Regions from separate parts of the Homo sapiens genome. Here region 2 is linked to region 1. The links come from fine-mapping of genetic effects on gene expression. A gene starts in region 1. The other region holds a variant in brackets. All regions are shown on one strand. Distances are from middle to middle.

Region 1 (15,688 bases):
GCCCTGGGCAGGCACAGAGCTATGCAGGTGGCCCCCTCTCAGTGCCTGCCCTAGGCTCTGCTTGTGACTCTCTTCTCCTCACCTGTGCCCCACGCTTGCAGCCCCAGCTGTGTGGGTTCCACTTCTGGTGCTCTGGAGTCTTGGGGGAAGAGGCACTGTGGTGGCCCTTGAGACTCCTTCCTGCCTCCCTCCGGAGCAGAGAGTAAAGAGGAGCCGGCAGTGTCTGGCCTGCATCTTTCCATGTGGACAGGAGCCCTCCCGGGAGGCCTGGAGGCAGAGGGAAGAGGCGGAGGGTGCCATGGTCCACAGGGAGCTGTGGGAAGGTGGGAGCCCTCCTGCTGCACCCCAGGCACCGTCAGGGAGAACCCTGGTGACCTGGGCGAGAGCTGGGCCCGAGTTGGGATCTTTGATGGGGAGGGGAGTGAGAGCAGGGATGTGCTCTGGTGGTGGGGAGCCTCAGGTCAGGTCCCAGAGGACCCAGGAGAGCTCATGAACACAGGGCTGGCAGGTTGTCAGGGAAGAGCCGAAGGAGCTGTGGTAGCCTCCAGGCAGGGAGCTCTTCCTGGGCTGGAGGGAGGTGTGGGATTGTTGGAGTGCTGCTCTCACACAGGAGCACGGCCTGTTCTGGGGGTCGGAGGGCTGGAGCACCACCATGAAGGGCCTGCAGGTGGGTGGAGGCAGAGGGCTTCTGGGAGTGTGACCGGCCTGGGCCAGACAGATGCCTGGTGCTTCTGCCCCCACCCCTGGGCTCTGGTGTGCCTCCTGCCATCGGCACCACTGTCTTCCTTGTCCTTCCCTGGGTCCTGGGCCGAAGCACAGTTGACAGGACCTGACCAGGGGCAGGACCCTGTCCTCACCTCGCCACCTTTTTGCAGTCCGCCAGTTCCTTGGGAGTGGGGTCAGCCCTGACTTGGCCAACGAGGACGGCCTGACGGCCCTGCACCAGGTCAGCCTGCACTGGGTGTGGGCAGGGTGGGGGCTGGCCCCCGTGCTCTGGTCGCTCACGTGGCACGGTTTGCAGTGCTGCATTGATGATTTCCGAGAGATGGTGCAGCAGCTCCTGGAGGCTGGGGCCAACATCAATGCCTGTGACAGTGAGTGCTGGACGCCTCTGCATGCTGCGGCCACCTGCGGCCACCTGCACCTGGTGGAGCTGCTCATCGCCAGGTAGGGCCTGTTGGGCGTCCTTGGCAGGGAGAGGCTTCCTCTCAGATGGCCGCTCAGGAGGCTCCTCTTGGGCAGTATCTGTGGCTCTCGGCCTCCTGTGTTCCCGCCTTCACCTTTGCTGACCCTGCCTGTGTCCTGGCATGGAGAGCAGGGCCTGGGGCTCCAGGGGAATGGGCATGTGCCCAGGGCAGCGCGGTCCCTGCCTCCCCAGCATTCGTCCTCCTGCCGAGAGGGCAGGCCTCGGGCCCCCCCCCAGAGTGTGCACAGAGAAATGTCTTGGTCAGTGAGGAGGGCAGAACTGCTAAGGAGGGAAGCAGAGTGAGGAGGCCAGGTGGCTTGGGAGGAGAGGGTACCTGAGCACAGGTAGGGCCTTTACCTTTAACACAGAGGGACGTAGAGCGGGGGGAACTCTGAGCAGGGAGGGTCCATGAGCCTCCTCCCTTCCCCTTTGCTCCAGGCATCTGTAGTGGGAGAGAGGTCAGGGCTGCGGTCATTCTCGAGTGCCCCTGTGAGGCCGGGTGGGGTGTGCATGGCGGTCGCGTCACACACAGGCGCTGCGGGGCAGGCGGGGATGTGGGGTGTCCACAGGTAGGCCTGCTCCTCCACTGCACACAGACACCCCCTTCTGTGTTCTGGGCTCCCCTTCACCGCCCTTCTTCCCTGGGGCCATGCTCCCCACAGCTCAGCAGCCCCTCAGCGTGGCTGCCTGGTCCTGCACCCCCGCCACCCTGTGCTCCCTGCTCCCCAGCAGGCAGGCCCATCCAATGCATGTTTATGGGGGCACCGCTGCCCCTGGAGGTGCCAGGAACCTGGATCCCTGGATGGATAGAGACTGCAGGAGGCCTGTCTGGCTTAATGACAGGATCTAGGACAGCCGATGGGCCCCAAGGCTGCCTCTCCCAGCAGCAGGTGGACAGGGTGCCTCCTGAGGGGCAGCCCTGGGCTGAGGGGCCCTGGCGGGGACTTCTCCAAGTGAGGAGCCTGGCAAGCGGGGAAGGGCCTTGTGCCCAGCACCCCGTCCGTCTTCCCTGCAGTGGCGCCAATCTCCTGGCGGTCAACACCGACGGGAACATGCCCTATGACCTGTGTGATGATGAGCAGACGCTGGACTGCCTGGAGACTGCCATGGCCGACCGTGGTAGGTGCGGCGGTGCGGCTGTGGGAGGGCTGCCGGTCGCGCTCCCTCTGAGCCTGCCGCCTCGCAGGCATCACCCAGGACAGCATCGAGGCCGCCCGGGCCGTGCCAGAACTGCGCATGCTGGACGACATCCGGAGCCGGCTGCAGGCCGGGGCAGACCTCCATGCCCCCCTGGACCACGGGGCCACGCTGGTGAGGGCTGGGGGGTGAGGGGCACACGGGGCTGGGGGCCTCGCTACTTGGAGGTGGGGGATGGGGCCGAATTCAGGCCGGGCGCTTGCCTGCAGCTGCACGTCGCAGCCGCCAACGGGTTCAGCGAGGCGGCTGCCCTGCTGCTGGAACACCGAGCCAGCCTGAGCGCTAAGGACCAAGACGGCTGGGAGCCGCTGCACGCCGCGGCCTACTGGGGCCAGGTGAGTGCGGGCGGGAGCAGGTGGGAGGGGGCTTCCAGCGCAGCAGTCTGCAGCTCCGGCCTGCCGTCCACAGGTGCCCCTGGTGGAGCTGCTCGTGGCGCACGGGGCCGACCTGAACGCAAAGTCCCTGATGGACGAGACGCCCCTTGGTGAGCTTGCGGGGCCCACCTCCACCTGGGGGAGAGGACAGGCGGGGAGGGCGCCCCTGACGCCTGCGCCCACTTCTCAGATGTGTGCGGGGACGAGGAGGTGCGGGCCAAGCTGCTGGAGCTGAAGCACAAGCACGACGCCCTCCTGCGCGCCCAGAGCCGCCAGCGCTCCTTGCTGCGCCGCCGCACCTCCAGCGCCGGCAGCCGCGGGTGAGCGCCGCCCCCAGCAGGCCCCGCCCCGGGCTTGGCCCCGCGGACGTCAGCCCCGGGCGGAGTGCCAGCCGAACTGGGGGCAGAGTCCGAGGGGGTGGGCGGGGTCCTCCGGGCACTCCCCTTCCCCTCACTCCCTCTCCTCTCTCCTCCCCAGGAAGGTGGTGAGGCGGGTGAGCCTAACCCAGCGCACCGACCTGTACCGCAAGCAGCACGCCCAGGAGGCCATCGTGTGGCAACAGCCGCCGCCCACCAGCCCGGAGCCGCCCGAGGACAACGATGACCGCCAGACAGGCGCAGAGCTCAGGCCGCCGCCCCCGGAGGTGAGCGCCCCGTCCCTGCTCCGCCCAGCGCAGGGGTGGGCCTGGCTCTGCCCTGGTTCTCTCTCCGCTTGGACCCCCTCCTGCCTGTGTCAGGAATGGTGCCCTGCAGGGGCCAGCTTTTGCCCCATCTCTCCTGTCTGTCCCTTCATGACCATACAGCCTGAACCCAAGGCCAGGGAGGGGGGAGGAGCCTCCTGATGGCTCTGGGACCTTCACTGCCCGCAGGAGGACAACCCCGAAGTGGTCAGGCCGCACAATGGCCGAGTAGGGGGCTCCCCAGTGCGGCATCTATACTCCAAGCGACTAGACCGGAGTGTCTCCTACCAGCTGAGCCCCCTGGACAGCACCACCCCCCACACCCTGGTCCACGACAAGGCCCACCACACCCTGGCTGACCTGAAGCGCCAGCGAGCTGCTGCCAAGCTGCAGCGACCCCCACCTGAGGGGCCCGAGAGCCCTGAGACAGCTGAGCCTGGCCTGCCTGGTGACACGGTGACCCCCCAGCCTGACTGTGGCTTCAGGGCAGGCGGGGACCCACCCCTGCTCAAGCTCACAGCCCCGGCGGTGGAGGCTCCCGTGGAGAGGAGGCCGTGCTGCCTGCTCATGTGAGGCTGTTGCTCAGCATGCAGGGGCCCTGTCGCGGGCACAGCCCAAGGCTGCCTCCCCACGGTGCGTGCCCTGGTGCTGCGGGTGCAGCACGGAAACCCCGGCTTCTACTGTACAGGACACTGGCCCCTCTCAGGTCAGAAGACATGCCTGGAGGGATGTCTGGCTGCAAAGACTATTTTTATCCTGCAACTCTTGATAAAGGGCTGTTTTGCCATGGAGCCTCGTTGTGTGTTGTGTGTCTCAGCTGGGTCGCTGTCCCACAGTGGGGAGTGGGTTGTGCTGTTTGGCTGGGGTGCCACCCGTGCCTGTGAGCATGAAAGCCTGTAGGTGCGCGCTGGGGCATGTGGCAGCCCTGGCTGTGTGGGAGTGAGGCTCACAGCCACTGGGCTGGAAGCCTGGGCCTCACCCACTCCCTCCCATGCTCAGCCTCCTGGAGCCTCCTCCGTAACCCTTTGCTCTCCTGAGAGGAGCCAGGTGCTTTGAAGGAGCCTCCATGGGGGCCAGGGCCTAGGGTGTCTGTGCTGAGGGGCGGAAGGTGGGGGTCCCAGGGACCATGGCTTGGAAAGGGAGGTGGTGTTTTCCACAAGACTCTTGTGTCAGAGCCAGAGGGGCAAAACAAGCACAAGGCTGTGTCAGAAGCTCCCTGGGGGGGTTGTGGGTCCCCAGTTCCTGGCACGCAGCCTTAATCCTGGGGCCTGGCTGCCAGCTTCCGCCTGGGCTGGCATAGGGGACACGCAGTTGGCCACTCTGGCTCTGAGCTGGCTTGGCACAATGTGTCAGGGTGAGGGGGCCCCTTAGGGGCCTCAAGCAGGAGGGCTGAGGGCACCGCTGGTTCGTCTGTTCATGGTGGGCGGCTTTGTGTGGCCACCAGTGCTGGGTGGTGTGGGTTTGGGCTGTTCTCCCTCCTGGCTCAGCACGGGCCCGTCAGCCCAGTGTCCTTTGGGCCTGCCCTTCCCCTAGCATCCCTGGTTGGAAGGGTGTCCTCACAGGGCTGTGGGCGGGCCAGGGCTGGCTGCTGGTTAAATTTAGTGTGGGGGGTGGGGCAGCTGCCCAAGGTCCACCTGCCACCAGGGCTGCCACTTGGACTCCCTTGCCAGGGGGCGGGCAGGGGCTGGCTCTGCCTGGGGCCAGGCCCATGTTAACCTGTGCCCCGGCCTGGGGGCCAGAGGGGCAGGCCTGCGCACGGGGAGGCTGTTGTGGCAGCGGAACAGAGACGTGCACGGTGAGAGGCCTGGGGGCCGGCTGTCCAGGGCTCCCGATGGCTTTTCTCCCAGCCAGCAGGATCAGAGGAGCCAAGGTCCGACTTGGGCCTGGCTGGTTGCCCACAGCCCTGCTCAGAGGGCCGGCTCCCTGACCCCCATGGTTCAGGTTTCGGTGCCCGACGCTGGGGTGGGCCAGCGTGGAGCCTGGCCTTTCAGCTCAGCAGGCCTGTGGAGGTGGGGCTCTGACGGCCTATCCCAGCTCGTTTCCTACTCTCTCCTCCAATCGGGAACAAGAGGGCTGGAGAGCTCAGGTCACCCCTAGCCTCGGGTGTGTCCCAAGGGCAACCCCCAGCTGGTGCCTGGTGAAAGGGCATGACAGCAGCCACGGTGTGAGCTGTCCCAGGGCTCAGGGCTGGACTGCCTGGCTCCAGCCCCCTCCCCCAGCCCCTCGCAGTGCTCATCAGGGACCAAGGTCCAGCTACAGAGCTCTTGCAGCCTCTGGGCCATAGCTGCCAGCTCTGGAGGGTCCAGATGGAACCCAGAGCCTGAACACCCCTCCCCTCCCCCCAGCACCCCCTGGATTCCTGAGGCCTGGCTCAGTTAATAGGAGACAGGTCCGCTGGCCCAAGCAAAGATGCGGGTGCCACGAGGGCCAGGCCTCGGCCAAGCCCTGCTGGGGTAAATCCCAGCAGCCCAGGCTCCAGTCTCGCCTCGGGGGTCCCTCCTTGCCAGCTCTGCCAGCCCCTCAGGGCTGCTGGGCACCCCTTCACCTCCTGAGCACCCCAGGTGCTCAGCCCTCTCCCCCTCCCCCCATGTCTAGTCCCTCAGAGCTGTCCGGACTGACGTCTGTACCTACCCCCCATGTGGGTCTCCTGCTCTCCCTTCGTGGGGACACTAGGCAGGCACTGGGCCTTGCCCCAAGCCCCGCCTGCCACCTCACCCACTGCCTCTGCCTCCCTGGGGCAGAGCTGTTCCCAGACGGGTGGGGCGGGGCCCAACTGTCCCCAGCTCCTTCAGCCCTTTCTGTCCCTCCCAGTGAGGCCAGCTGCGGTGAAGAGGGTGCTCTCTTGCCTGGAGTTCCCTCTGCTACGGCTGCCCCCTCCCAGCCCTGGCCCACTAAGCCAGACCCAGCTGTCGCCATTCCCACTTCTGGTCCTGCCACCTCCTGAGCTGCCTTCCCGCCTGGTCTGGGTAGAGTCATGGCCTCGAGCACAGGTGACCGGAGCCAGGCGGTGAGGCATGGACTGAGGGCGAAGGTGCTGACGCTGGACGGCATGAACCCGCGTGTGCGGAGAGTGGAGTACGCAGTGCGTGGCCCCATAGTGCAGCGAGCCTTGGAGCTGGAGCAGGAGCTGCGCCAGGTATGGCCCAGGGCCCCTCGCTGCCCTCCAGGTCACAATGGGGTGGCCGAGTTGGCCCCAGCCCCACTGGCACATGGGACAAGGGCTGAGGGGTTAGGTAGGGCACAGTCTCCCTGCCTGCTCCCCTCCCCTCCCAGGGTGTGAAGAAGCCTTTCACCGAGGTCATCCGTGCCAACATCGGGGACGCACAGGCTATGGGGCAGAGGCCCATCACCTTCCTGCGCCAGGTGAGGCTCCTGCACTGCCCGGAGCACCCCCCCACCCCCAGCCCATGTGCCCTGGCCTCAGCACTCCGTCTTCCCAGGTCTTGGCCCTCTGTGTTAACCCTGATCTTCTGAGCAGCCCCAACTTCCCTGACGATGCCAAGAAAAGGGCGGAGCGCATCTTGCAGGCGTGTGGGGGCCACAGTCTGGGTGAGAGCCAGGGCCAGGAGGAAGCAGAGGGCCGCCCTGCCACTGGAGGAGGGAAGTCCCTTGGGAGGGCTGAGGAGAACTTCACCTGTACTTCCCATCCTGTCCTGCCCGAGTCCAGGGGCCTACAGCGTCAGCTCCGGCATCCAGCTGATCCGGGAGGACGTGGCGCGGTACATTGAGAGGCGTGACGGAGGCATCCCTGCGGACCCCAACAACGTCTTCCTGTCCACAGGGGCCAGCGATGCCATCGTGGTAGGCTGGGCATGGGCACCAAGACATTCCTGACACTGCAGAGGGGGCGCCCAGGGTGGGGGACAGGTGCGGCCCCAGGCCTCGCCAACCCTGCCTTCCCCTTCCTTTCCGCAGACGGTGCTGAAGCTGCTGGTGGCCGGCGAGGGCCACACACGCACGGGTGTGCTCATCCCCATCCCCCAGTACCCACTCTACTCGGCCACGCTGGCAGAGCTGGGCGCAGTGCAGGTGGATTACTACCTGGACGAGGAGCGTGCCTGGGCGCTGGACGTGGCCGAGCTTCACCGTGCACTGGGCCAGGCGCGTGACCACTGCCGCCCTCGTGCGCTCTGTGTCATCAACCCTGGCAACCCCACCGGTGCGTTCCCCGCCGCCCCGCCCCACTCCCCCCGCGCCCACGTTGCGTTCCCCGCCGCCCCGCCCCACTCCCCCCGCGCCCACGGTGCGTTCCCCGCCGCCCCGCCCCACTCCCCCCGCGCCCACGGTGCGTTCCCCGCCGCCCCGCCCCACTCCCCCCGCGCCCACGGTGCGTTCCCCGCCGCCCCGCCCCACTCCCTCCGCGCCCACGGTGCGTTCCCCGCCGCCCCGCCCCACTCCTCCCGCACCCACGTGCGCCCTGGCCCAGGCAGTGCCGGGTCCGCTGGACCCCGGCTGCCCAGCGGAGGGCAGTGCGCCCCCTTGGCTCACCCAGCACTGCTGCCTCCCCGGCACCCCAGGGCAGGTGCAGACCCGCGAGTGCATCGAGGCCGTGATCCGCTTCGCCTTCGAAGAGCGGCTCTTTCTGCTGGCGGACGAGGTGCGCGGCGCGGGGGAGCGGGAAGCCGGGCAACAGTCCGCCCCCGTGACGCCTTGCGCCCTTCCAGGTGTACCAGGACAACGTGTACGCCGCGGGTTCGCAGTTCCACTCATTCAAGAAGGTGCTCATGGAGATGGGGCCGCCCTACGCCGGGCAGCAGGAGCTTGCCTCCTTCCACTCCACCTCCAAGGGCTACATGGGCGAGTGCGTGCGTACGAGGCGGGTGGGGGCTCGCGGGCCATGGCCAGGCCCTCCTCGCCCGATGGGCCACCCCCTCCTCCGCACCTGACCTGGCCGTGCGCAGGTGCGGGTTCCGCGGCGGCTATGTGGAGGTGGTGAACATGGACGCTGCAGTGCAGCAGCAGATGCTGAAGCTGATGAGTGTGCGGCTGTGCCCGCCGGTGCCAGGACAGGCCCTGCTGGACCTGGTGGTCAGCCCGCCCGCGCCCACCGACCCCTCCTTTGCGCAGTTCCAGGCTGTGAGTTGGGGGCAGGAGGGGGTCCAGGTGACCTAATCAGGGGTGGGGGATGCCGAGTGCCGTGCCCTGATGGGCCCTCCCTCCGCGGCCACAGGAGAAGCAGGCAGTGCTGGCAGAGCTGGCGGCCAAGGCCAAGCTCACCGAGCAGGTCTTCAATGAGGCTCCTGGCATCAGCTGCAACCCAGTGCAGGGCGCCATGTACTCCTTCCCGCGCGTGCAGCTGCCCCCGCGGGCGGTGGAGCGCGCTCAGGTCAGGCGGGGGCGGGGCCTGCGGGGTGGGCAGGGGGGGCCGGGCATCCCTCTCTGACGGCTCTCCGTCCACAGGAGCTGGGCCTGGCCCCCGATATGTTCTTCTGCCTGCGCCTCCTGGAGGAGACCGGCATCTGCGTGGTGCCAGGGAGCGGCTTTGGGCAGCGGGAAGGCACCTACCACTTCCGGTGAGGCCTGGCCCTCACTCCCTGTCCCGCCACCCTGGCCCTTCACTCACTGTCAACTCCTTTCAGGATGACCATTCTGCCCCCCTTGGAGAAACTGCGGCTGCTGCTGGAGAAGCTGAGCAGGTTCCATGCCAAGTTCACCCTCGAGTACTCCTGAGCACCCCAGCTGGGGCCAGGCTGGGTCGCCCTGGACTGTGTGCTCAGGAGCCCTGGGAGGCTCTGGAGCCCACTGTACTTGCTCTTGATGCCTGGCGGGGTGGGGTGGGGGGGGTGCTGGGCCCCTGCCTCTCTGCAGGTCCCTAATAAAGCTGTGTGGCAGTCTGACTCCAGGGAGGAAGCGTTGGCAGCTGCGTGGCCCGCTCCCACCTGCCTACCCTTCTTGCAGGCCTGAGTCCCTTCAGAGAAGGGACCTTCCACGGCCACCACCCACCTCTTCCTCCTGAAGACCCCGTGCCCACCATAGGCTGGGTCTTCCCTCTGGCCTCTGGTTGTGGGGCAGAGCCCGTCAGATCACACAGAAATGGGTTGAGAGGGTCCAGAGTGTGAGGAAAGCGCAGGCCCCACACCCCTTTGTGGAAGCCCCCAAGAATCTAGGGAGCCAGGGGCCCAGGTGGCCACCCGAAGAAACACAGCCTTTCCTGAGGAAGGCACAGTGAACTGCCTCCTTCCTGGCTCCCTTTCCTGTGAGGTCCATGTCTTCCCTGGGGCAGGGGGAAATACTAAACCAGCATGGTGCTGGCTGGTCAGGGTGACTGACAGCTCAGGAAGGAAGTCTTGGTTCTCTTACCCAAGGAAGCAGGGGTGGGGCCACTGTCTGGGGGGCCAGAGACCACCTTTGGTGTCATTGTGTGGTGCAGTCCTTCGGCTGGGTGGAGTGGGAGGCAGAGGGAGAGGATAAGGGAGCGTCCCAGGGGAGGGCTGGGGCTGGAGGAGGCAGGGGCTGGGCTGAGCGGGAGTGGGCAGCGCTGTGTCCTGGCCTGGGGAGCATGGCTGAGCACCTACTACATGCAGACACTGCTGGGGGGTCACTCAATCTGCACAGATGCTCTTCTGAAGTAGGCATGATAGTCCCCATTTGATAGACGTGGAAACCTGCAACCCAAAAACCTGCTGAGCTGACAAGAAACCCCCTCAGAGGCCTCGGCAGCCAGAAAAATGCGTTGGGTCCAGTGCCCTCAAGTCCGCCAAGGACAGGGCTGGCTTTAGAGACTCACAAACTTGGGAGATAGGACTGGCCAAGGGCACCTGGTTTTTTTCGCTCTGGAGATGGTTCTTAACCACAGGCCACACACACTTCACAGCCTCATCTGGCCCTCGGGAGCCCCAGAGGGCACAGCTCTGGGCAGGAGACACAGCAGGTGGGCCCCTCCCTTGGCAGGGCGGGCTCGAATCAGGCAGGGTGCTCCTAGCCTTGTCACCGGACACCGAAGGGCGTCACGGGCAGTGGCTGGCGGTGTCCTTCTGAGCTAAGCTGGGTCCTGACCTTTCACACTTCCCTCCTAACTTCCATGGCTCTGTCACCGCCTTACGGAGGAGCTGAAGCCACAGACACAGCAAGGTTGGGGTCCGCACCGGAAGTATCCAGTGGTAGACGGCGGAACCCTTAAGAAACGGACGCCTTCATGCGGGCGGCTGGAGAAGCGGGGGCTGGGCACTGCAGCAACCACGCTTCGGCTGACACCAGGAAGGAAGCACGCCTGGAGCGGATCCGAAACTACTGAGAGGGGCCAGGGCTGGCCGTGGGCGCAGGCCGATCCTTACATTCGAGGCCGGCCCAGCTCTGTAGCTTCCCCCTCTGGGCCTCTCACCCGCGCAGGACCTCGGTGGGAGCGCGCACGTGGCGGGGCGGGGGGCCGCGGGCCCGAGCCCGGACTGGCCACCGGGGGCGCCCGCGAGCTGACGCTCTGGCCCGTTGCGGTCTCTGTGGCCCGCGCGACCTTCCGGCCCTGGAGCCGGTGGCCGCGGGGCTCCAGCGACGCCGTGTGGTCCGTGCTCCGCTCTGTGGCTCCAGGGGGCCGAGAAACTGCTGAGAGTCCGGCCCGGCCGGCAGTGCTGGGCGCGGGCCGAGGGCCCCGGGAGGCAGCGGCCCCGCCCTCTTTACCTGCGGCCTCGCAGAGCATGCTGGGAGCCGCGGGAGGCAGTGGCCCCGCTCCCCTCACCTGCGGTATCGCAGAGCATGGTGGGAGCCCCGGGAGGCAGTGGCCCCGCCCCCTTCCCTGCGGCCGCGCAGAGCATGCCGGGAGCCGCCGGCCGCCGGTGTCCGGACCGCTCGCCCCCGTTTGGACCCGACTTCGGTTCTTCTGGGGTGTTGATGCTCCTAAAGCCCGAGAGCACGTGTCCAGACCCTAGCCTGTACGACGCTGACTCTGCCCGGTCCCAGAACCAAAGCCATGCCGGGGTGTGGCCTCTGACCCCACGCGGAGGGGACCTCGCCTTGCGGGACCCCACCTGGAACCCGACCTCCCAGCCTCGCAGCCGGCCTGAGCCGCCATGCGCGGGAAGTTGCTGCCGCTGGCCGGCCTCTACCTGGTGCAGGGCCTGCCCTACGGGCTCCAGTCCGGCCTCCTGCCAGTGCTGCTGCGTGCCGGCGGCCTCTCGCTGACGCGCGTGGGGCTGGCCAAGGTTCTGTACGCTCCGTGGCTGCTCAAGCTGGCTTGGGCCCCGCTGGTGGACGCGCAGGGCTCGGCGAGGGCCTGGGTGACGCGCAGCACGGCGGGCCTGGGCCTGGTGTGTGGGCTGCTTGCCGGGCTGCCCCCTCCTGGAGCTGGCCAGGCCGGGCTGCCCGCCGCTGTGGCGGGGTTGCTGCTGTTGTTGAACCTGGGTGCCGCCATGCAGGATGTGGCCCTGGACGCGCTGGCTGTGCAGCTGCTGGAGCCGGCCGAACTGGGGCCGGGCAATACCGTGCAGGTGGTCGCGTACAAGCTGGGGGCCGCGCTAGCTGGGGGCGCGCTGCTGGCGCTGCTGCCCACCTTCTCGTGGCCGCAACTCTTTCTGCTCCTGGCTGCCACCTACTGGCTGGCCGCGGCCCTGGCCTGGGCTGCACCAGCCCTGCGGCGGCTCCCACAGCAGCCCCCTTCCGAGCAGCGTCCCCACACCGCGCACCTTCTGCGGGACGTGCTAGCCGTGCCGGGGACCGTGTGGACGGCAGGCTTTGTGCTCACCTACAAGCTGGGTGAGTGAGGCCTCGAGCCAGGCAACAGCAGTTGGGGCTTCCGGGACAGCTCCAGGTGTGTCCCCAGGGGCTTGCAACCCATTACAGGGCCACGCTCTTTCTGGGGTATGACCTGCAAGACTTGGCCCTGACATCCGGGGCTCTGCAGCTGGGCCTTGTGTCTTGTCCGCCCCCAGCTCTAGCCCCATCCCTGAGCGCTCTCTCGGGCTGCCCCACTTCTCCCCCAGTATCTGCAGCTCTGGAACACTGAGGAGAGCAGGGCAGGACTGAGGGCCCAGGTGGGGAGAAGGGAGGTGGGGGCAGATATGGAACCTCCCGTGCTCATGCCCCCCCCACCACCCAAGGTGAGCAGGGTGCCAGCAGCCTGTTTCCTCTTCTCCTGCTGGACCACGGCGTTTCTGCTCCCGAGTTGGGACTGTGGAATGGTGTGGGTGCTGTGGTCTGCTCCATCGCTGGCTCCTCCCTGGGTGGGACCTTGCTGGCCAAGCACTGGTGAGCCCTCCCCAGTGTACCCTGCCCACCCACTTGTACCTGAGCTGCCCCCAATCCACTATACTGACCCATTTCCCACCCCCATCCCAGGAAACTGCTGCCTCTGTTGAGGTCGGTGCTGCGCTTCCGCCTCGGGGGCCTAGCCTGTCAGACTGCCTTGGTCTTCCACCTGGACACCCTGGGGGCCAGCATGGACGCTGGCACAATCTTGAGAGGTGAGGGGCTGGCCTTGAGGAGGAAGAGAGGGGCCAGGAGCCTGGGGCACTGCTGACTTCTGCCCTCCCAGGGTCAGCCTTGCTGAGCCTATGTCTGCAGCACTTCTTGGGAGGCCTGGTCACCACAGTCACCTTCACTGGGATGATGCGCTGCAGCCAGCTGGCCCCCAGGGCCCTGCAGGTGAGTAGATGTAGCAGGGACACAAGAGAGACCACGGGGCTGGGGCTGTGTGGGCCTGACCTTGACCGTGACCCCCACCCCCCTCAGGCCACACACTACAGCCTTCTGGCCACGCTGGAGCTGCTGGGGAAGCTGCTGCTGGGCACTCTGGCCGGAGGCCTGGCTGATGGGTTGGGGCCACATCCCTGCTTCTTGCTCCTGCTCATCCTCTCTGCCTTTCCCGTTCTGTACCTGGACCTAGCACCCAGCACCTTTCTCTGAGCTGAGTGGCTGGAGTGGTCAATAAAGCCACATGTGCCTGTGGCCCAGATGTCTCTGTGCCTGGAATATGTGATGTGCTTGTCCCCAGCTTGTGGGGGTTGCCTCATTGGCCAAGAGGGCCCATAAAAACAAAGTGAGCATTTTTTATTCTGCATTTTGGAGCCTCCTCGTTCCCACACCCTGTGGCAGGTTTTGCCCAGGTCCTCAGTCACTGCCCTAGCCTCTGACAACCCCAGCTCTACCCGACATCCCCCAATGCAGTGCAGTCAGCGGGCCACCTGCAGGAGCTCTTCCGTGGCCAGGCCCACCAGGGCATGGAAGCTCAGGTGCAGGTATTTTCTCCAGAAGCGTCGGTCCTGCCCGTACACCTGGGCCGGGTAGCAGGGGCTTCCTACGGTGGAGCCAAGACACAGCCGTGAGCCCCAGCCCCAGCCTGCAGCGGGTGGAGCCTCCCAGGCCTCACCTGCCCCAGCCCCCAGCCCCAGCCTGCAGCGGGTGGGGCCTCCCAGGCCTCACCGATGCCGTGGAAGATGCGGGCCACAGCCCTGCTGGAGAACTTCTCCTCTGGCCTCAGGGACAGGAACTGGCGGATGTCGCAGCGGACCTGGTCCTCCCAATCCTGGAGCTGTGTGGACAGGCACATCAGGCTTCCTCTGAGCTCCCGTGGCACTGCATCCACAGAGCAAGCCCCATGCAGCCCAGGGAACCTGCAACCCCGATGAGCTGCCTGGCCTTACTGCACTCACTCTGGCCTGCCCTGGCTCGGGGCCCTGTGCGTCCTCCATGCCTCCCGGCTCCTGCCCTTCCTCTTCCTCAAAGTAGCGGCCGAGCAGGTCCTTGAGCCTGGTGCTGCGCTCCTCATCCTGCTGCTCCAGGCAGGGCCCGCAGCTGGGGAAGGCTACGCTGTGGGGAGGAGCCTGTCAGAGCTGATCACTGCGGGAGGGTGGATGGTCCCAGGCCCCGCCCGCCTCCTCCCAACCTGTGAAAGGCCTGGAAGGTTCTGCGCAGACGGGCCAGGGCCTGGCGCTCCCGGGCCTGCACACGGCCATAGAGGAAGTCACATATCTGGTCCTTCTCCTCAGCGGTCAAGTCCCCCGGGCTGCGAAGGTGGAAGGCCAGCTCACTGAACTCCACAAGCACCCCTGTCCCACGCCGCACACCTGCCGGAAAGCATGTCAGATGCAGGCAGGCAGCGTCCAGGGCGGTGTGGGGTGGGGAGAGGCGCACCTGTCCTGGGCTCGTGGTCCCACTGCAGCTGGCAGAGAGCCCGCCGCACAGAGGCCAGCTCCCAGCCCATGGAGTCCACCAGCTTGACCATGTCAAACTCCACGGAGCTGCTGCCTTGCCCTGGGTCCTCAGGCAGCTGCTGGGCCAAGCACACAGCCAAAGGGGGACACCTGTGCCCAGGGAAAAAGGGACATGTGGCCAACAGCCCTGATTCTCCAACCTCGTCTCCAACTGGGCAGGGCGTGCTTACCTGTGGGCCAGGGCCTGGAGCTGGGCAGGGCCCCCAGGGCAGTTCAGACGGCAATGGGTATAGGTGGTCGCCAGCAGCTCCAGCCAGTGGTGTGGGTGCAGCTCCAGGTAGCACAGCAAAGTCTCGATGGCTGGGGGCAGAGCAGGGCTCAGCGGACGCGGGGACAGCCCCTCCACACCCCTGTGGCTTACCCCAGGTTCCTCACCCTCCTCCGGCATGTCCAAAGCCTGTACGGTAAGCTGTATTGGGAGTGCCCGCTCATGGCCCATGCAGACCCTTCTGGGTCCTGGGGCTGCTTGGTGGCTAAGCTGCTCAGCCTCTTGAGGGGGGTACTTGGGCACAGGCCTCTCCCCACCCACGGCCCCTTCCTGCTCCGAGGGCGGCCTGGTGCAGGTGCAGGTGCAGGCTGGGAACACGCGCTGTACCAGCCTCTTCACAGCCAGGAAGTCCGTGCTGTCGGCGTGCACATGTCTGCGCAGCTCTCGCAGGTCTTCGCCCTGCAGGGCAACTTTCATGAGGGTGGGGTGGACCACTGGGGGCTCGAGCACTGGCAGTGTGGGGGGGGGGGGTGCCAACCTGGGGCTGCAGGAAGAGGTGGCAGTGGGCAGGCTGCCCGTCACGCCCGGCCCGGCCCACGGCCTGCACGTAGCTCTCGAAGCTTGGGGGCAGCCCCAGATGCAGCACAGCCCGCACATCTGGCCGGTCCAGCCCCATCCCAAAGGCCACCGTGGCCACCACCACCCGCAACTGGCCCTGCATGAAGGCTCGCTGTACCCGCCGCCGTTCCCGGCTGCACATGCCCGCGTGGTAGGCCTCGGCTGTGGTTTTGGGGGCACGACCTTTGGGGAAGACAGGCAGATGGTCAGTGGGATGGGACCATGTGTGCCCAAGGTGGGTCCACGGGGACACCAGCTCTGTCCATGCCGCACCTCCAGACCCTG
Region 2 (15,793 bases), 56 kb after region 1:
CACAGAGCTCGATGTGGGCTGTCGCCTCCCAGCCATTAGTTTACGGCCCAGAGGTGCAGCTGCTGGCCCTGTGTCGGGGGGCCTGGCCAGCACATGGATGTACTCGTGGTCTGAACAGGGATCTTCAGCAGGCTGAATCGTCAGCCAGGTGAAAGGTGCCAGCCTCTGAGAGGGGCCAAAGGCACAACAGAGGCAGAGGCCACAGGAAGTGCGCCAGTGGAGGGTTGCGGGGGCTGCGGACCTCCAGGAGGATCCTTGGACCTTCGTGGAGACCAGGACCTGGTGTGTCAGCTCGTGGGGCCAGAGGCGGCTCCATGGGGCTGAAGGAGGCCGAGCCACCAGAGTGGCCTGGTAGGTGTGAGGGGCAGGACGCTGGGGCGGGCTTAGCTCAGCGACCCACCCCCTACTCCTGACATCCCCAGAGAGGCCAGAAGGTCCTCCTCACCTCACCTGGGACACTGGCTTTCCTGAAAGCTCTGTGGGTGCCACAGATGAGCTCAGGGATAATGCCAGTGAGTCGGGCCCTTGATCCTGGGGGAGAATGGCATCCTGGGGATGGCAGAGCTGAGGCAGTGCTTGGCAAACAAAGACCAGGTGGGCACGTCCACCACGAAGGATGCAGTCGCGTTGGTCCACTAAGCACATGCTGGGTCCACAGGAAGCCCCAAGGCTGGTGACCAGAGCCAGGACCTGATCTGCCACAGTGGGGGTGGCCCTTCCACTACGAGCTCTGTCACTCTGCAGTGACCACTGAGTCAGCTGCCCAGATCCATCCCACTGATGAGGAAACGGAAGCTCGGGAAGGCTATAAAACCTGTCCTCTATCAAACAGCCACACTGCTGGGACCAGGGCAGGCTCTAATTCCCTGCCACAACCCTAATGTTCAACAAATACGAATGTAAGAAACAAACCGTTACCACTTCCAAGCTCCAGCTGTTCAATCGTCTGTGCAGAACGCCAGAGCCCCCTCGGGTCCTCCAGTTCCTCCCCAGCACCACAGTGCCCCTGGGTGGCCCATGCTGCGGACACCCACCCCCCTACAGAAACAGCAGCTGGCCCTGGCCCTGCATCTCCCACAGCAAACTGGTCACCACCTGGCCAAGGAGGAGAAATCCAGGTGCCTGCCTCTGCCTGGATATCCTGGGAGGTGGAGGGAGCGTCCTGCCCGCCCAGCGTGAAGGCAGTAGGGTCTTGAGGGTGGTCTCCAGAACCTTCCAGCAGTCTGTGAGGCTGACCCAGGGCTACTGGAAGCCAAAGCCCACCCCTCCACTGTGATTAGCGCCAACCTTCCAGACGGGCCTGGCAAGTGCTTTGGCACGTGTGGCCTGAGATGCCAGGGGTGGACCTAACTGAGGACCCTCCAGCACTCTGCTGCTCCACCAGGGGCTGAGGGAAGCACCGCAGGCTCCAGGCTGCCTAAGCCAGGCAGAGACAAAGTTCCTAGACAGGGGCTGCCAATGGGCCTGGGGCAGCTCTAAGGGGCTCCTGTCCAGGCCCCTGGCCCTGTGGCCTCCACGGCCTTTCCAGCTCTGGGTCTGTGGTGTTGCTGCTACGCGCCAGGCACCTCCCACTTGCAGTTAGCCTGGCTCACTGAGGAAGCCGCCCTCCATCACAAACGGCCACGCCTGAGAGATGGGTTCTACCTGTAGTGAAGAAGCTGGCCGTCCGCACTGTAATCCCGGTAAATCTCATAGTCCTTCTCAAGGAACACTCCTGGTGGTGAAGAGCTGAAACACAGTAAAATGAAAGAAATATGAATATAAGTGCAATCGTTTACCATAACCAGCCACTCCCTGACTTAAGAATGTGGCACTGCCACCTCAATTTCCTGGAAATAACCTGGCTCCTGCCCCCAGGCTGTATTCTTCATCTTCTGCCCTGAGTCCACCTTCTTCCAGCAGGTACACACCACTGTGGCCCATCCAGAGGCCAGGGAGTGGCTGGGACACCTGGATTTCAGAAGCTTGAACCATTGGAGCTGGGGCTACTGTTCTAAGGGCATAGAGATGGGGTTACTGAGAATCACAGCTTCAGCCAGACATAAAAAGATGACCTGGGAAGGAAGCATGGCTAGAAATAGCCTTGGAGACCAGGCACGGTGGCTCACGCCTGGAATCCCAGCACTGGGGGAGGCTGAGGCGGGCGGATCACGAGGTCAGGAGATCGAGACCATCCTGGCTAACATGGTGAAACCCCGTCTCTACTAAAAATACAAAAAATTAGCCAGGCGTGGTGGCGGGCGCCTGTAGTCCCAGCTACTTGGGAGGCTGAGGCAGGAGAATGGCGTGAACCCGGGAGGCGGAGCGTGCAGTGAGCCGAGATGGCGCCACTGCACTCCAGCCTGGGTGACAGAGCAAGACTCCATCTAAAAAAAAAAAAAAAAAAAAAAGAAATACCCTTGGAGACTGTGACTGCTGAAGGTCAGGGCCTGGAACATAACAAATATCTATGAAATGAATGGCTGAGTAGGCGATTATCCCGACAGATATTCCCAGGTATGTGATCAAACCGATAAGTATTTATGATCTAAAACAACTCTCAGTAGTCCAGAAGTAGAAGAAAATTTACTTAATCTGATTAAGAATATCCAAATTAAACTCAAGGCCTTCATAGTATTCAGCGGCAAAAGCCTGAACCTTCATAGTATTCAGAGGCAAAGGCTGAACCTTCATAGTATTCAGAGGCAAAGGCTGAACCTTCATAGTATTCAGAGGCAAAGCCTGAACCTTCATAGTATTCAGAGGCAAAGGCTGAACCTTCATAGTATTCAGAGGCAAAAGGCTGAACCTTCATAGTATTCAGAGGCAAAAGGCTGAACCTTCATAGTATTCAGAGGCAAAGGCTGAACCTTCATAGTATTCAGAGGCAAAAGGCTGAACCTTCATAGTATTCAGAGGCAAAAGGCTGAACCTTCATAGTATTCAGAGGCAAAGGCTGAACCTTCATAGTATTCAGAGGCAAAAGGCTGAACCTTCATAGTATTCAGAGGCAAAAGGCTGAACCTTCATAGTATTCAGAGGCAAAAGGCTGAACCTTCATAGTATTCAGTGGCAAAAGCCTGAACCTTCATAGTATTCAGAGGCAAAGGCTGAACCTTCATAGTATTCAGTGGCAAAGGCTGAACCTTCATAGTATTCAGCGGCAAAAGCCTGAACCTTCATAGTACTCAGAGGCAAAGGCTGAACCTTCATAGTATTCAGAGGCAAAGGCTGAACCTTCATAGTATTCAGAGGCAAAAGGCTGAACCTTCGTAGTATTCAGAGGCAAAGGCTGAACCTTCGTAGTATTCAGAGGCAAAGGCTGAACCTTCGTAGTATTCAGAGGCAAAGGCTGAACCTTCGTAGTATTCAGTGGCAAAGGCTGAACCTTCGTAGTATTCAGCGGCAAAAGGCTGAACCTTCGTAGTATTCAGAGGCAAAGGCTGAACCTTCGTAGTATTCAGAGGCAAAGGCTGAACCTTCATAGTATTCAGTGGCAAAAGGCTGAACCTTCGTAGTATTCAGCGGCAAAAGGCTGAACCTTCGTAGTATTCAGAGGCAAAGGCTGAACCTTCGTAGTATTCAGTGGCAAAAGGCTGAACCTTCGTAGTATTCAGCGGCAAAAGGCTGAACCTTCATCGTATTCAGAGGCAAAGGCTGAACCTTCATAGTATTCAGCGGCAAAAGGCTGAACCTTCGTAGTATTCAGAGGCAAAGGCTGAACCTTCGTAGTATTCAGAGGCAAAGGCTGAACCTTCGTAGTATTCAGAGGCAAAGCCTGAACCTTCATAGTATTCAGAGGCAAAGGCTGAACCTTCATAGTATTCAGCGGCAAAAGGCTGAACCTTCGTAGTATTCAGTGGCAAAAGGCTGAACCTTCGTAGTATTCAGTGGCAAAAGGCTGAAAGCATACCCATGAAAGTCAGGGCAAGAATTATTTATCCTTACCACCATTGTTTAATACAGTTTTTGGAAGTGCTAGGCAATGCAACTGGACAAGAAAAAAAACCACAAAAGATTCAAATATTTGAAAGGAAGACATAAAAATGATCATCAATTGTCAGCCTAGAGAAATTAAAACAATCGAATGAGAAACTTCAGCAGTGCGGAGAGACCTCACTTACGTACCACCTGCCATCAGAGGCTGTGCTGTGTGGTGGTGACTGGCTGGAAACCAAGCTCACCTTTATTAAAGCAACAGTAACAACAAAATACTAGGCACAGGTTAGTGAGGAATGTGCTGTATCAATATGAATAATACTGTAAAGTCTTGTTGAGACATATAAAAGAAGACTTGAATACATAACAGAGAAACACACACTCCCGGATGGGAAAATTCAATAAATATAAAGATATGACTTCTTTTTAAATTAGTTAATATGTTTAATGTCTTTTTTTTTGTTTGGCTGGGGGATGGAGTCTCTCTCTCTCACCCTGGCTTGAATGCAGTGGTGTGATCTTGATTTCAGCTCACTGCAACCTCCATCTCCCAGGTTCAAGCAATTCTCCTGCCTCAGCCTCCCAAGTAGCTGGGACTATAGGCACCTGCCACCACGCCTGGCTAATTTTTGTATTTTTATTAGAGACGGGGTTTTGCCATGTTGGTCAGGCTAGTCTCGAACTCCTGACATCAGGTGATCCACCTGCCTTGGCCTCCCAAAGTGCTGGCATTACAGGCGTGAGTCACCGCGCCTGGCCATAAATTCTAGTAATAATTTCATTCAGTGGCAACAGTAGGGAGCTAAAGAAAAATGTTCAGCGGGAGTACTTTCAGAACTTAAGAATGTTCAGTATGTTCACCCCCTACTCTGCTCCCTGCAAAAAGCCCCATATAAAAATAGCTGAGAAGTAATACAGAAAGGATGATATAAACAGTAATATAAAGCTACATAATTAGGCTGGGCACGGTGGCTCATGCCTGTAATCCCAGCACTTTGGGAGGCTGAGGTGGGTGGATCACTTGAGGTCAGGAGTTCGAGACCAGCCTGGCCAACATAGCAAAACCTCGTCTCTACTAAAAATACAAAAACTAGGGCCGGGCACGGTAGCTTACACTGTAATCCCAGCACTTTGGGAGGCCAAGGTGGGCGGATCACAAGGTCAAGAGTTTGAGACCAGCCTGGCCAATATGGTGAAACCCTGTCTCTATTAAAAATATAAAAAATTAGCCAGGTGTGGTGGTGGGCACCTGTAGTCCCAGCTACTCGGGAGGCTGAGGCAGGAGAATGGCGTGAACCCAGGGGGCAGAGCTTACAGTGAGCCAAGATTGCACCACTACACTCCAGCCTGGGCGACAGAGCGAGACTCTGTCTCAAAACAAAAAACAAAAAAACAAAAACTAGCCGGAAGGGTGACACATGCCTGTGGTCACAGTATCAGGAGAATTGTTTGAACCTGGGAGGTGGAGCTTGCAGTGAGCCGAGATCGTGCAAGCCCGGGTGACAGAGTGACTTTGTCTCCAAAAAAAAAAAAAAAAAAAAAAAAAAAAGCTACATAATTAAAGCAGTGTAGTACTAGTAGATGGATGGATTCTGGAATGCAACAGAAAGCGCAAGTATTGACCCAAATATATAAAATAATTCAGGAGACAGGGATTAAAATTTTTGTACACAGCAAGTAGGCTGGAGACCAATCGTGTGTCTGAGGACAGGGACTAAGTAAGCACATTGCTCCTACTGAGAAATATGACATGGCTGCTGAAATACGGTTGTGGTAAAATATTTTAAAAACCTCAAGGATATATGCCAGAAAATTAAGGCAAGTTGATGATCCCTTATCTAAAATGCTTGGGATCGGAAGAGTTTTGGATTTTGGATTTTTTAGGATTTTGGAATATCTACATATACATATACATAATGAGGTATCTTGGGAGTAGGACCCAAGTCTAAATACAAAATTCATTTATGTTTCATATATACCTTATCCACATAGCCTGAAGGCAATTTTATAGAATATGTTTAATAATTCTGTGCATGAAACAAAGTTTTGACTGTGTTTTAATGGCAACCTATCACCTGAGGTCAGACGTGGAAGTTTCCACTTGTGGCATCACGTTGACACTCAAAACGTTCCAGATCATGGAGCACTTTGAATTTTGTGTGCTTGGCCTGTGGTAGACAGCACTAATATCTATTACAAGTGTTTATTTTCTTTTATGTAATTATACATATCTTCTATGACTAATGTACATTGCTTCTCAAATAAAAAGGTCATTTTAAAAATGTTTTAAAATCAGTTGTATCAACAAATGGCAAACTTGCCGGGCACAGTGACTCACGCCTGTAATTCCAACACTTTGGGAGGCCAAGGTGAGTGGATCACTTGAGGTCAGGAGTTTGAGACCAGCCTGGCCAACATGGTGAAACCCCCGTCTCTACTAAAAATACAATAAGTAGCCGGGTGTGGTGGCGCGTGCCTATAATCCCAGCTACTTGGGAGGCTGAGGCAGGAGAATCGCTTGAACCCAAGAGGCAGAGGTTGCAGTGAGCTGGGATCTTGCCATTGCACTCCAGCCTGGGCAACAAAACGAGACTCCGTCTCAAAAAAACAAAACAAAATAAAAAAACAAATGGCAAACGTTAAAGTTGGCTGGTGGTCAATATCTTCAAACACATAATTACGGTACAGAACAAAAAGCTAGAAATATGGAATATGCCGAGATGGAAAACCATATAGGCAAAGACATCTATAAGATTGCTGTATCTGTATCTAACCCTCCTACCATTTCTGACTCGTCACCAAAAGATGACTGGGGTCCTGCAAGTGGGCCTTCAATGTTATGCTCTCGAGGACCAGCGGTGCGCGGGTTACTCTGTTACTGAGTTAGATGAATATCATGTTCCTGAGGCGGTGATGCTATGGCTGTGCTAAAGGAGCATGACGTCAACACTACTAGAGCAAGTACTCGTCACAACAGACTCAACTTACACAACTGTCAGAAACATTTTAAACAGAAACAGAAACTCTCAAGTGGAGTATTTCATCACGGCAGAATTACTTTACAAAAATAAAAATGACCCTTACACTAACGTATGTTCTAATGTGGCTCACTTGTTAGCCAAGCAAGGAAAACTGTTCACTGATGGGAAATTAATTACATTGTGTTGATTATGGCATCTAAAACTGTGTCGAGAGATGATAAACTTGCTTAAGACTATTAGCCTTTTGGCAAGAGCAGCTGCTTGAGGAGTTGAGGACAGTGAGAGCAACACAACAGCCCTAGGACCCCAGTGGTTTCCATTGCACCCCAGCGGTTTCCATCACACCCCAGTGGTTTCCATCGCACCCCAGCAGTTTCCATCGGACTCACCCCAGTGGTTTCCATCACACTCCAGTGGTTTCCATCACACTCCAGTGGTGTCCATCAGACCCCAGTGGTTTCCATCACACTCCAGTGGTTTCCATCACATTCCAGTGGTTTCCATCAGACCCCAGTGCTTTCCATCACATCCCAGTGGTTTCCATCGGGCCCCAGTGGTTTCCATCGGACTCACCCCAGTGGTGTCCATCACACTCCAGTGGTTTCCATCACACTCCAGTGGTGTCCATCACACTCCAGTGGTTTCCATCACACTCCAGTGGTTTCCATCACACTCCAGTGGTTTCCATCAGACTCCAGTGGTTTCCATCAGACCCCAGTGGTTTCCATCACACTCCAGTGGTTTCGATCGGACCCCAGTGGTTTCCATCGGACCCCAGTGGTTTCCATCGCGCTCCAGTGGTTTCCATCGGACCCCAGTGGTTTCCATCGCGCTCCAGTGGTTTCCATCGCGCTCCAGTGGTTTCCATCGCGCTCCAGTGGTTTCCATCACACTCCAGTGGTTTCCATCGGACTTAATCCAGTGGTTTCCATCGGACTTAATCCAGTGGTTTCCATCGGACTTACTCCAGTGGTTTCCATCGGACCCCAGTGCTTTCCATCACATCCCAGTGGTTTCCATCGGGCTCCAGTGGTTTCCATTGGACTCACCCCAGTGGTTTCCATCACACTCCAGTGGTTTCCATCGCACTCCAGTGGTTTCCATCACACTCCAGTGGTTTCCATCACACTCCAGTGGTTTCCATCGGACTCCAGTGGTTTCCATCGGACCCCAGTGGTTTCCATCACACTCCAGTGGTTTCCATCACACTCCAGTGGTTTCCATCGGACTTACTCCAGTGGTTTCCATCGGACTTACTCCAGTGGTTTCCATCGGACTTACTCCAGTGGTTTCCATCGGACTTACTCCAGTGGTTTCCATCGGACTTACTCCAGTGGTTTCCATCAGACCCCAGTGCTTTCCATCACATCCCAGTGGTTTCCATCGGGCTCCAGTGGTTTCCATTGGACTCACCCCAGTGGTTTCCATCACACTCCAGTGGTTTCCATCGTGCTCCAGTGGTTTCCATCGTGCTCCAGTGGTTTCCATCGGGCTCCAGTGGTTTCCATCACGCTCCAGTGGTTTCCATCACGCTCCAGTGGTTTCCATCGGACCCCAGTGGTTTCCATCGCGCTCCAGTGGTTTCCATCGCGCTCCAGTGGTTTCCATCGGACCCCAG[TGGTTTCCATCGGACTC/T]CAGTGGTTTCCATCGCACTCCAGTGGTTTCCATCGCACTCCAGTGGTTTCCATCGGACTCACTCCAGTGGTTTCCATCGGACTCCAGTGGTTTCCATCACACTCCAGTGGTTTCCATCACACTCCAGTGGTTTCCATTACACTCCAGTGGTTTCCATCGGACTCACTCCAGTGGTTTCCATCGGACCCCAGTGGTTACCATCGGACTCCAGTGGTTTCCATCGGACTCACTCCAGTGGTTTCCATCGGACTCCAGTGGTTTCCATCGGACTCACTCCAGTGGTTTCCATCGCACCCCAGTGGTTTCCATTGGACTCCAGTGGTTTCCATCGGACTCACTCCAGTGGTTTCCATCGGACTCCAGTGGTTTCCATCACACTCCAGTGGTTTCCATCGGACTCACTCCAGTGGTTTCCACAGACTAACTCCAGTGGTTTCCATCGGACTCCAGTGGTTTCCTTGGCTCTTGATGAGCTGACAGACGTTACTGGTACTGCTATGTTTGAAGGAGTCAATATTGAGCTTGAAGTGACCAAAGAATTAGCCTCTATCACTTGCTCTATGTGGAACAACTAGAACACACAGTATTTTCAAATAAGTTGTGAAAATACTAATTTTGTATGACCTGAAGTGGAATCTACTAAGATGAACTACAACTGATCATGCTAAGAATATATGTGGATCAGAAAAGGCTTACTTAGACAAACTTACAAAGCTTATGAAAACTGAAGATAATGTGAAAATATAAGCCTATGTTTATTGTGTTTTTCATTAGCAGCTACTTTGTGAAAAGTATTTGAATCTATTAGGAGTTACTGAAACAGTGGCATCAACACGAACTTCATGCACTCTCATGACTCAGCCATCATTAGTTCCATGAATTTTTGTCAGAAATCAATGATAAATATTCTCACTTTCCGACCACACAAAATTCAACAGCTTCGCAGTGGCAAAGTTTTATTGTCATTTTTTAGAAAACTCTGGGCCAAGACTAAAAGTCTCTGCATGAGAAAAACCTCCCTCAACCACTATTAAACACTGAAAAGGGCTTGGCACCCTAAAATTTTAGGGCTCAGCCCTAAAATCCCAATGCTTTAGGGGGCTGAGTTAGGAGGATCACTTGAGACGAGGAGTTCAAGACCAGCCTGGAAAGATAGTGAGACCTTATCTCTATAAAAAAAAAATAATAATAATAAAAGAAAATTAGCTGGGCACAGTGGCATATGCCTATAGTCCTAGCTGCTCTGGAGGAGAATCACTGGAGCCCAGGAGTTCAAGGCTGCAGTGAGCTGTGATCACACCACTGCATTCTAGCATGGGTAACAGCGAGACCTTGTATCTAAAAAAAATAATAATAAAATAAATAAATAAATAAGTGCACAATTAATGACTTTGGAAATTAATTTTTGTTGTAGGCTTGACAACATTTCTTAATGAATTCAACCTAACATTACAAATCAAACAGTGCATATGTGTGAAACTTATATTGCAGTAAAGTTATTTCGATGTCAACTAATGTCTGAATCATAAGTAATGTCAAGCTGCTTTATCTACTTCCCATGGTGTCTAAAATTAAAACAGAAAGTGAGATTTCCATTCCCACACAAATTTGCAGCAGATATATTTTCTGAGCTCAAAATATAGATCCAGCAGAATTTGATAAATGCCTTCCAAATCATATGCTCATGGACTGACACCAGTATTTGGCAGTAGCTCTCTGTGTAAAAAGACATTTTTGCAGATGAAGCATGTAAAATGTCATCACAAATAACAAGAGATGAACATCTGCAATTGGTTCTGATAGTCAGGAATGCCAACTCCTTTTGGTTTCTCTGAGCAGCAGCACTGGCCCCCGTTGTCCCCTGAGCACACCAAATGCTCTTCCGTCTCGGGACGTGCCACTTGGTGCTTCCCCTGCTGGGATGGCTTCCCCTCATATATCAACAACTTTTGCTCACAAGATGGAAGTTCTTGCTCCTCAGAATGCACTGAATCTCTACCAATAACTTGGAGAAGGGGAAAAAAAGGGAACTATTACAAGAAAACTCAACCAGTTGAACCTAACCCCAAACTGACACAAATGAAAGTAGTTGAGAAAGACATTAACAGTTACTAAAGTTGTATTCCATATGTTCAAAAAGCTAGAGAAATGACTGAACATGTTAAGTAGAGACGTAGAATATACAAAAAAGAACCCAATCAAAGTTCTAGAGATAAGCATTATGATGTCTGAGAGGAAAAATACACTGGGGCTGGGCATGGAGACTCACGCCTATAATCCTAGCACTTTGAGAGGCTGAGGCAGGAGGACCACTTGAGGCCAGGAGTCTGAGACCAGCCTGGGCAACATAGTGAGATCTCTAAAAAAAAAAAAAAAGGCCAGGCATGGTGACTCAGCCTGTAATCCCAGCACTTTGGGAGGCCAAGATGGGGGCGAGTCATCTGAGGTCAGGAGTTCGAGACCAACCTGACCAATATGATGAAGCCCTGTCTCTCCTAAAACACACAAAAATTAGCCAGGCGTGGAAGCATGTGCATGTAATCCTAGCTACTCGGGAGGCTGAGACAGGAGACTCGCTTGAACCCGGGAGGCAGAGGTTGCCGTGAGCCGAGATTGCGCCATTGCACTCCAGCCTGGGCAACAAGAGTGAATTCCATCTCAAAAAAAAAATTATATACATATAAATTAGCTAGGTGTGGTAATGTGTGCCTGTTGTCTCAGCTACTTGGGAGGCTGAGAGGACTGTCTGGGCCAGGAGGTTGAGGCTGCAGTGAGCCGAGCCTGCATCACTGCACTCCAGCCTGGGCAACGGCAAGGCCTTGCCTCAAAACCAAACCAAACCAAACCCACCACTAGAAAGAAAAAACGCTTCGTGAATTTGAAAGCACAACAACAGAAATGATCCAAAATTAAAGCTACAAAAAACAGAGGAAAAATAAAGAAAAAAGAGAAAGTGGGACTGAGTGCAGTGGTTCATGCCCGTAATTCCAGCATGGTGGGAGGTCAAGGCGGGTGGATCACTTGAGGTCAGGAGTTCAAGGCCAGACTGGGCAATGTGGCGAAACCCCGTCTCTACTAAAAATACAAAAATTAGCCAGGCGCGGTGGCAGGTGTCTGTAGTCCCAGCCACTCGGGAGGCTGAGGCAGGAGAATTGCTTGAACCCAGGAGGTAGAGGTGCAGTGAGCTGAGATTGCACCACTGCACTCCAGCCTGGGTGACAGAGCGAGATTCCATCTTAAAAAACAAAAGAAAAGAAAATGGAAATTATCCCACAGAGTCAGAGAGCTGCAGGATGACTTCAAGTGACCTGACACATAACTGCAGTGCTGGGTGGGGGTGTGAGCACAAACACAGTCTAAAGAAAAGGCCAGGCACAGTGGCTCACACTTGTCGCACTACGGGAGGCTGAGGCGGGAGGATCGCTTGAGCCCAGGAGTTTGAGACCAGCCTGGGAAAAACAGAGAGACCCCAACTCTACAAAAAAAAAAAAAAAAGGCTGGGTACGGAAGTCAGCAAGCTTGTGGTCCCAGCTACTCAGGAAGCAGAGGTGGGAGGATCGCTTGAGCCCAGGAGGTTGACGCCGCCATCATCTGTGATTGCGCCATTGCACTTCAGCCTGGGCTACAGAGCGAGACCCTGTCTCAACAACAAAAAAAGTTTTGTTTTGGGAGAAAAAATGACTGAAAATTTCTCAAACGTGATGAAGACCATAAACTGAGAGGTCCAAGAAGCTACACGAACCCCAGCACAAGGAACACGAAGAAAATGACATAAACCCCTATCTTAATCAAATTGCTTAAAATGAGCAAAATAGAGAAAATAAAGGAGCTAGAGCCAGGTGTGGTGGCTCACTCCTGCAAATCCAGTGCTTTGGGGGCCGAGGCAGGTGGATCGCTTGAGTCCAAGAGTTTGAGACCACCCTGGGCAACATGGTAAAACCCCATCTCTACCAAAAATACAAAAATAAGCTGGGTGTGGTGGTGTGCACCTGTGGTCCCAGGTGCTGAGGTGGGAGGACAGTTTGAGATTGGGAGGCAAAGTGTGCAATGAGCAGAGATCACGCCATTCCACTCCAGCCTGGGTGAAAGAGCCAGACCCTGCCTCAAAAAAATAGAATGAAATTGGCTGGGTATGGTAGCTCATGCCTGTAATCCCGGCACTTTGGGAGGCCAAGGTGGGCAGATCACTTGAGGTCAGGAGTTCGAGGCCAGCCTGGCCAACATGGTGAAACGCCGGCTCTACTAAAAATACAAAATTAGCTGGGCATGGTGGTGTGCGCCTGTAATCCCAGATACTTGGGAGACTGGGGCAGGAGAATTGCTGGAAGCCAGGAGGTGGAGGTTGCAGTGAGCCGAGATCGTGCCACTGCGCTCCAGCCTAGGTGACATAGTGAGACTCCATCTCAAAAAAAGAAAAAAAAAAAAAAGAAATAAAGGAGCTAGAGTTAAAAGACACATTATGTAAAGAAATACAAAGAATGACAGCTGATTTCTTGTTAGAAATGATGCAAGCCAGAAGACAATGAAGTGGCAAAAAGGAATAAATCTTAACCTACACCCAGCAAAAGTAGCTTTCAAAAATGAAAATGAGGCCAGGTGTGGTGGCTGATGTGGGCGGCAAGCCACCCAGGTGCTGAGGCAAGAGACTGAAGGCACGAGCTGTTCCAGTATGATAAAATATATAAAATAAGAATAGTTATACCAGATATAGATCTTAGATATGATTATATATGAATATCATTGATCAATAGTTTGTAGCAATTACTCTTTATTCCAATATTATAATAATCCTTGCTCTACAATCATAACCTAGGAAAAACCAGGCCATACAGAGATAGGAACTGAGGGGACATAGTGAGGAGTGACCAGAAGACAAGAGTGCGAGCCTTCTGTTATGCCCAGACAGGGCCACCAGAGGGCTCCTTGGTCTAGCGGTAACGCCAGCGTCTGGGAAGACACCCGTTGCCAAGCGGACCGTGGTCTAGCAGTAGCGTCAGTATCAAGGGAAAACACCCGCTACTTAGCGGACCAGGAAAGGGAGTCTCCCTTTCCCGGGGGGAGTTTAGAGAAGACTCTACTCCTCCACCTCTTGTGGAGGGCCTGACATCAGTCAGGCTCGCCTGCAGTTATCCAGAGGCCTAACCATCTCCCTGTGATGCTGTGCTTCAGTGGTCACGTTCCTAGTCCACCTTCATGTTCCATCCTGTACACCTGGCTCTGCCTTCTAGATAGCAGTAGAAAATTAGTGAAAGTACTAAAAGTCTCTGATATGCAGAAATAATGGCGTAAGTTGTTTCTCTCTCTCTCTCCTCTCTCTCTGCCTCGGCTGCCAGGCAGGGAAGGGCCCCCTGGCCAGTGGACATGTGACCCACGTGGCTTTACCTATCATTGGAGATGGCTCACTCTCCTTATCCTGCCCCTTTGTCTTGTATCCAATAAATATCAGCGCAGCCTGGCATTCAGGGCCACTACCGGTCTCCATGTCTTGGTGGTAGTGGTCCCCTGGGCCCAGCTGTCTTTTCTTTTATCTCTTTGTCTTGTGTCTTTATTTCTACAATCTCGTCTCCGCACATGGGGAGAAAACCCACTGACCCTGTGGGGCTGGACCCTACAGGCTGATGCCTGTAATCCCAGCACCTTGGGAGGCTGAGGTGGGCAGATCACCTGAGGTCAGGAGTTTGAGATCAGCCTGGCCAACATGGTGAACTCTCGTCTTTGCCAAAAAAATACAAAAATTAGCTGGGTGTGGTGGCACACGCCTGTAGTCCCAGCTACTTGGGAGGCTAAGGCAGGAGAATCACATGAACCTGGCAGGTGGAGGATGCAGTGAGCCGAGATCACACCACTGCACTCCAGCCTGGGTGACAGAGTGAGACTCTGTCTCAAAAAAAAAAAAAAAAAAAAAAAAAGATGGAAGACTTTTTCAAAAACACAAAAGCTAAAAGAAGTCATTACCAGCAGACTTGCACTTCAGTAAATGTTACATGAAGTCCTTGAAGCAGAAAGAAATGCCACCAGATGGACACAAATCTGGATCTACACAAGCAATCAAGAGCACAGGAAACAGGAACTGTGTGGGGTGATGTAGAAATGTTTGCTTAGTATTAAAATCTCTTTAAATGATAACTGACTGTTTAAAGTACAAATGATAACAATGTATTAAGACATTGATAACATGTAGAAAAGTAACATACTTGACAGCAACAGGACAAAATTAGAGAGAAATGGAGCCTAATAAATGCTGTTAGGTTCTTACACCATTTATGAAGCGGGATAATATCATTTGAAAGTCAACTATGGTAAGTTAATATAAGATAATACATAAACCCTAAAACAATCACTAAAAAGTAGCAAAGAGCCATAATTAAGAATCCAACAAGGGGAGATAAAGGTGAATTTTAAAATGCTCGATTAGTGCAGAAGGAAAAAAAAAAGAGGAAAAAGGGATTGAGAACAAAAGAGACAACAAATCAAACAGCGAGACGACAGATTTACGCCTAAGCCTGACCCTAGCCATGCAAATCATCACACTGTGTTAATGGTCTAATCCCCCCATAAACAGGCAGAGACGTTCAGACTGAATAAAAACATGTGACCTAATAATATGATGCCTACAGGAAAACTCACAATAAAGACAAAAGAATAGGTAAAAAGTAAAAGGTTGAAATGAGAGATACCATGCTAACATGAATCAAATTAATATTGGAGTGCCAAGATTAATGTAAGTAGATTTTGGAGCAAAGAATATTTCTAGGAACAAAGAGGGTCAATGATGAAGGGACTGATTCATCAGGAGCACATAATCCTAAATGTTTATGTACCTAACTACAGAGCCTCAAAATACTCCTGGGTATTTTCTGAGAGAAATAAAAATGTATGTCCAAACAAAGACTTGTACATGAATGTTCATAGCAGTTTTATTTGTAATAGCCCAAACCTGCAAACAACCCAAATGCCCAACAGAAGGCGGTACATCCATACAATGGTATACTACTAAGCAGTGAAAAAGGAATAAACTACGGATACATGTAACAACATGTCAAAACAATTACATGGAGTGAAAGATGACAGACAAAAAAGAGTGCATACTGCTTGAGTCCTTTTATGTAAAATTCTACAAAACACAAATTAATCTATAGTGAAGCAGGTAGACGAATGGTTCCTTAGGAATGTGGGGGATTGTGCAGAGACAGGTGGGAGGGGAACAGGAGGGCAAGGAGACTTCTGGCACCAGTGGAAAGTGCACTACCTTAATTGTG

Alleles and levels. Positions count from the first base shown, and alleles are read on the strand shown. Sizes are in standard deviations (SD) of each study's normalised expression.
For the expression in whole blood of the gene that starts at base 11,176 in region 1, allele T in region 2 goes with a higher level than allele TGGTTTCCATCGGACTC (moderate effect, 0.62 SD a copy in GTEx).

What was found.
Region 2: its variant is fine-mapped to the expression of SLC33A2 in whole blood (GTEx, PIP above 0.99).

What each region holds. Positions count from the first base shown.
Region 1 is chr8:144,497,895-144,513,582 of GRCh38, forward strand. It overlaps SLC33A2 (solute carrier family 33 member 2), which reads left to right and starts at 11,176. Exons shown (of 5, transcript NM_138431.3): 1 at 11,176-12,121; 2 at 12,466-12,613; 3 at 12,704-12,828; 4 at 12,900-13,009; 5 at 13,097-13,319. The coding sequence starts at 11,440. The coding sequence ends at 13,270. GPT (glutamic--pyruvic transaminase) reads left to right here and starts at 6,246. Exons shown (of 11, transcript NM_005309.3): 1 at 6,246-6,572; 2 at 6,710-6,799; 3 at 6,877-6,985; 4 at 7,104-7,237; 5 at 7,352-7,595; 6 at 7,954-8,033; 7 at 8,101-8,237; 8 at 8,338-8,512; 9 at 8,607-8,762; 10 at 8,837-8,949; 11 at 9,016-9,278. The coding sequence starts at 6,411. The coding sequence ends at 9,106. RECQL4 (RecQ like helicase 4) reads right to left here. Exons shown (of 21, transcript NM_004260.4): 13 at 15,677-15,688; 14 at 15,324-15,586; 15 at 14,953-15,244; 16 at 14,748-14,877; 17 at 14,498-14,667; 18 at 14,250-14,430; 19 at 14,017-14,173; 20 at 13,787-13,895; 21 at 13,394-13,661. The coding sequence ends at 13,537. It overlaps PPP1R16A (protein phosphatase 1 regulatory subunit 16A), which reads left to right. Exons shown (of 12, transcript NM_001329443.2): 4 at 876-946; 5 at 1,022-1,167; 6 at 2,202-2,305; 7 at 2,373-2,497; 8 at 2,593-2,718; 9 at 2,792-2,867; 10 at 2,948-3,077; 11 at 3,235-3,400; 12 at 3,626-4,227. The coding sequence ends at 4,009. It also overlaps LOC101928953. RefSeq lists enhancers at 1,922-2,583, 5,894-6,554, 9,657-9,786, 10,097-10,226, 11,968-12,591 and silencers at 2,951-3,310, 4,972-5,266, 10,727-11,436.
Region 2 is chr8:144,553,916-144,569,708 of GRCh38, forward strand. ARHGAP39 (Rho GTPase activating protein 39) reads right to left here. Exons shown (of 12, transcript NM_025251.3): 4 at 1,645-1,728. Among named protein-coding and RNA genes, the nearest start is that of C8orf82, 33 kb to the left of the region's middle. RefSeq lists an enhancer at 15,755-15,793. The variant TGGTTTCCATCGGACTC/T (reference allele first, on the strand shown) is at 8,518.